2 separate regions of the Homo sapiens genome follow, and region 2 is linked to region 1. A link means that fine-mapping ties the variant in region 1 to the expression of a gene that starts in the linked region. Tissue or cell type: whole blood. Region 1 holds a variant in brackets; the other region holds the start of a gene. All regions are shown on one strand. Distances are between the middles of the regions.

What was found. PIP is the estimated chance that this variant, and not a neighbour inherited with it, causes the effect.
Region 2: GGTA1 starts here. The variant in region 1 is fine-mapped to the expression of GGTA1 in whole blood (TOPMed, PIP above 0.99).

Annotation. Positions count from the first base shown.
Region 1 is chr9:121,148,980-121,151,661 of GRCh38, reverse strand. CNTRL (centriolin) reads right to left here. Exons shown (of 44, transcript NM_007018.6): 25 at 1,179-1,492. Among named protein-coding and RNA genes, the nearest start is that of RAB14, 52 kb to the left of the region's middle. The variant A/C (reference allele first, on the strand shown) is at 1,398.
Region 2 is chr9:121,498,177-121,500,858 of GRCh38, reverse strand. It overlaps GGTA1 (glycoprotein alpha-galactosyltransferase 1 (inactive)), which reads left to right and starts at 1,015. Exons shown (of 6, transcript NM_001382585.1): 1 at 1,015-1,209. RefSeq lists silencers at 966-1,065, 2,415-2,682.

The DNA.
Region 1 (2,682 bases):
CCCAGCACTTTGGGAGGTCCAGGCAGGCGATCACTCAAGGTCAGGAGTTCGAGACCAGCCTGGCCAACATGGTGAAACCCCCATCTATACTAAAAATATAAAAATTAGCCAGGCGTGGTGGCGTATGCCTCTAATCCCAGCTACTTGGGAGGCTGAGGCAGGAGAATTGCCTGAACCCGGGAGGCGGAGGTTGCAGTGAGCCAAGATCACGCCACCGCACTCCAGCCTGGGCGAAAGAGAACAAGTCCGTCTCAAAAAAAAAAAAAAAAAAAAAGAAGAAGAAAAAAGAAAAAGGAAGTAATCTAGTAATTAGGAAATAATTATTTCTTAGAATCTAGCCTAAGAGATACAGTAAGAATTTACAGTCAGCTACAGTACCTACAAATATAGAAATGTTGTACAGTCATTAAAATATTGTTTAAAGACATTTGTAAAACCATGGACAAATGCTTATAACATTAAGTAGGAAAAACAGAATACAAAATATTGTGTACAATAAAATATAAACTATGAAAATAATAAATAAATCCCACCACCTAGAGATAATCCCCAAAACCTTATCCCCACCGAAATATAAACTATGAAAATAAATAATAAATAAATCCTACCTAGAGATAATCCCCACCAAAACCTTACTGTATGCTGTCCATACCTGTGTGCATACACGTGCACATACATGTGTATACACTCATATTATACATATATGTATGTGTACAAGTACAGGCACTAGTAAGTGAATATATACATACACATTAATATAACACTTGTCAATAGAAAAATACATAAGCTTTGTAAAAACGGTAAATTTCTGGACTGAAAACATTTGTTATTAAATGGCTAACCCAGGTTTGTAGACTGGCCTGAGACCCTAACTCCTGTACATGGTATTTTTGTTTTTTTGGTTTTTGTTTTTTGCTGTTACCGGGGCTGGCCTTGAATTCCTAGGCTCAAGCAATCCTCTTGTCTCAGTCTCCTGAGTAGCTCGGATTATAGGCACATGCCACTGCTTTTATAAGAGAATTTTAATAAGAGAATGCTTGCACAGTTCTAAACATCAGCCTTACAAACACACTTTGCCATATAATCCAGTCATAAATAGGTCAACTCATTAAGTATATAACCTTATCAGTCACCCATGGAAGCAGTGTGGAAAGAGAGTTGTATGTCTTTCCACTTACTAAGTTATGGTGTTCAGGGACGTTGCAATGCAGCACACCCATAGGGATGAAGGGGATGGAGAAGTTGGGGGGTGGAGGCCCATACACCATGGGGGCCCCAGCAGGAGGTGGGCCATAAACAACAGTGCCAGGGGTGAGAGGTCGGCTATTGTTTGGCAAGGGAGGAGGTGGTGCATACAGGGCCATGCCCTGGGGTACAGGAGAACCATCAGGAAGCAC[A/C]GTATACATCATGTATCCAGGAGGAGGCACAAATGGGGGTTCTTCTTGGTCATCCAGCTCACTCTCTTCCTGACTATCTCCTCCACTGTCTGCATCTTCAAAGAAATAAACAGAAGAGTTTATTCAACAAAAGAGTGTTTTACCCCCATGGTTTACCAGGTAAACAAATTTAGTAGAGAACAGCAGCATTTAAGCCAAGATACTGCAGATGTGAGAATAAAACTCTGAAAAAAAGGTCAAAACTATTTTTGAAAAGCAGCTCAAAACATGGATTCAAAGTATTTTCTATGGCTGATACTTGAGTTTTTCTTATGTTTATCTGTTGGTTTGTTTCTGCATTTGCTAATTTATTCATTAATTTATTAAGTGACCATCTGGGTATCTAATTCATGCTACATACAAGATCTTACAGCACTCAGTGTTTACCACTGTCATGACATGTAACACTCTCCAACGTGATAGCTTACTAACTTATCTGCCCTAAAACCAGGAAATATGTTTGCTGATCACTGACAACAGAGAACCTAGCACACAGCAGGCAGTCAATAAGCACTTCCTGGACACATACGGTGGCTCACGCCTGTAATCCCAGCACTTTGGGAGGCCGAGGCAGGCAGATCACTTGAGGTCAGGAGTTCGAGACCAGCCTGTCTAATATGGTGAAACCCTCATCTCTACTAAAAATATAAAAATTAGCCAGGCATGGTGGTGCACGCCTGTAATCCCAGCTACTCGGGAGGCTGAAACAGGAGAGAGAATTGCTTGATTCCAGGAGGCGGAGGTTGCAGTAAGCCAAGATTGTGCCACTGCACTCTAGCCTGGGTGACAGAGCGAGACTCCCTCTCAAAAAAAAAAACAAAAAACAAAAAAAAGTTTCTGAATGAACAAATTCTCAGAAGGTAGTATTCACATTTTACAGATTAACAGTTTCACAGCAGCTAAATAATTAGCCTAAGACCACACAGCTAATAAGTGAAAAAGATTTACTCAGGTCTGACTCTTCCTCTGGAGCTTTGGAAGACAGACCCGTAACACTTCATTTTAGGAGGATGAGATTAATGCCGTGATGCAAGGACACAAGACACCATGCTCCAGTACAGTCAAAGAGGCTGCTTAGTCAGCCTGGGTGAAGCAGGGTGGAAGAAGGCTCCATTTAGGAGCATTGTTTGAGGACCTAGGTCTCACTGAAGGATGAGTAGGCATCACCATGGGAAGGGAAGGAGGAAGGACATTCCAGACAGGGTTTAAAACAACGACAAGAGGTCGCTGGCCAAGACCAGATCAC
Region 2 (2,682 bases), 350 kb before region 1:
TTTTTTCTTTTCTTTCTCAGTCTCCAGCCTCCCGAGTAGCTGGGATTACAGGTGCACGCCACCAGGCCTGGGGAATTTTTCTATATTCTGTAGAGACGGGGTTTCGCCACGTTGCCCAAGCTGGTCTGGAAATCCTGAGCTCAAGCAATCCGCCCACCTCGGCCTCCCAAAGTGCTGGGATTACAGGCGTGAGCCACCGCGCCCGGCCGAATTATTTAAGAAGCGAATTTCTTAGTCTATGAAAATGACGTTCAACGGCAAATGGCAAAATGAAGTTCTGACTTTTCCACCTGTAAAGTAGATTGATATGAGCGGGAGTGAGAAGACCTTGTCGCTATCAGTATAAGACAAGAGAACTGAGGGCAGCCAGTTGTGGCCACAGCAACTCTCTGAGTGAATTGCTGCCACACTGGGCACAGAAGCGCACACTCTGAAATCGAATGTTTGGATTCCTTTCTACATAATTCTACTAAAGAGTTATTCCACAGCCTAGGGGCTGCCTTAGAGCCCCGTTTGAGACACTCTGGGCTCACAGATCATGAAGTCAGTGCGCAAACGCGGGCAGACCCTGAACCAGGTGCCCAACGCCCAGCCCTCACTTCCAGAGCTCAGGACTCTCGCAAGAGCGACTCCAGCCCCGGCCTGCCGCTGTCTACATTCGCGCTCTTCCTTCCTCGGGAAACAAACGGTGGATCAGATCTCCAAGGCTCTGAGTTTCCCAGAGTTTGGCCGTGCGCCAGCGCAGCGCAGCCCCTCCCAGCAGCACAGCACAGACCCCACCCCATCCTCCAACGCCCGGGGTTCCTGCTCTATCACCTACACCACCACCACCACGTGCAGGCCCGAGAAGGCAAAAGAGGCCCAGCCACTCTCACCGGGGATTTTATCCGCCTCCCCGGCACACACACACTCTCACTCACGCACTCGCTCGCCGGCCTTCCAGCTGTCTGTGTCCGGGGCGGGGACCGGCTTGGCGCAGCCCGCTGTCAGCGCTCGCCGGCTCCTCGCGCCCCTACCCGCTGCGCTCTGCCCAGAGCAGAAGCCCGGCCGGCCGGCCCACGGGCGGGAGGACGCGCCTCCGCTCGGGCGGAGGCGGCGCGGTGGCTGATCAGAGCGCGTAGGGCTTCGCCGGGGCCGGGAGCTGGGCGCGGTCCTGCTCAGCCCAGCTCACCGCGCGCCGGCCCTCGGCGCCCTGGTTCTGCGGATCAGGTGGGTCCCGCGGGGAGCCGCCCAGGTCCCCGGAGGCCACGAGCAGGACACGGACGGGGGGCTCCGCGCTTGGGAGAGGGTGGTGAGGGAGTGGAGGCGGGCCGCTGCTCCGGCGCTGCCCGGTGTCTGCCCTGCCTGTGTCCCTGCTTTTGTTCTTGTCGCTACCTCGGTGCCAAATCGGACCCAGTTTCTGTCCCTCTGTCCCCATCCTGTGGCCGTCCCTCCCTCTGTCCAGCCTTCCAAGACTGGAGCCTGAAGAGCTGCAAGCTGAGGTTCCCCCACGGGTCCGCGGGGTTGGGGTGGGGGAAGAGAGGGGAGACGCAGGGGACACAGGATGCGACCAAGTAAGTCGCAGTGAGTGAGGGGTCTGTCCTTGCCTGTGGGGCAGGACAGAGGAATGGCTCTTGCCCAGGACAAGATAGGAAGGGCGCGCCTCTGGGAAGGGGAATCTGGGAGTGGGGGGATAAAGTGAGGGTCGCAGGAACCCCAAGGAGGAAGGGAATAGAGAGGGAGATGTCAGAGAGCTTCGGAGAGCCGAGGACTCAGTCAGACGCCCAGCATGGGGAAAGTTTCCGACACTAACTTTGGCATCCGGGGTGCCTGCAGCACTGGGGCGATGGGAGGCGGGAGTTTCCTCCAACTCTTCAAACCTTGCTCCTACTCGAAAAGGACACCACCCCGCGTTTGGAAATGGCAGGAAAACGGCTAAACACAATGATTGCACAAACTCTTGAAGAAAGTAAAAAAAAAAAAAACAGTAAAAAGAAGAAGAAAAAAATGTCAGCGCGCAAAGAGCCAGAGAAGCAGAGGGATTTGAGATTCCTCGATCTTCCCGCTGTGGCGGCCGGGAGGGACTGGGAGGCGCGGAGGGTGTGAGAGCCGCTCCTCCGGCAGGAAGGAACCGAGACCCGAGGCAGGTGTTTTGAGGCTTTGCTCTTCCTTTGCACTCCTTCGGGCTCCTGAGCAGGCCGGGCTGCCTCCTTCCTTTACCTGGAAACAGGCGTGTCTGAGGAAGCAGGAGATGTAGGGTGCAGCCCTGGCCTGCCGCTTGCTGCCAGTAAGGAACCACCTTCCCAGACAGAGCCTCAGTTTCCCCGATTGTGAAATAAGGATACTACTGGAGACCTTCCTTCCAGTCTCTGAGTAAGGAAATGCAAGTGCATGGCGAAGGAGGGCTCTGGGAGTGGGGGGTGTGGAGGACAGGGTTATTCTGCTGCATTTCTGTGCTTCTTTGACTACATCAGGCACTTTCTACCTCTTTCGGAGTTACATCTGGGTGAATTTTGCCTCCTCTACCAGATGGGGGCAGCATGTGGATCTAAGTTATCTCATTTACATGTAACAGGTGCTCAATGACTGAATAAGGCAGAGCTGAACGAGTCCCTAGGGATTGCCCAGTCCAGAAGTTTCAACTCTGTCCTGTAAGGCCCGGCATCCTGCCTCAAGGGCCACCATGGTAGGGGAGGGGAACCT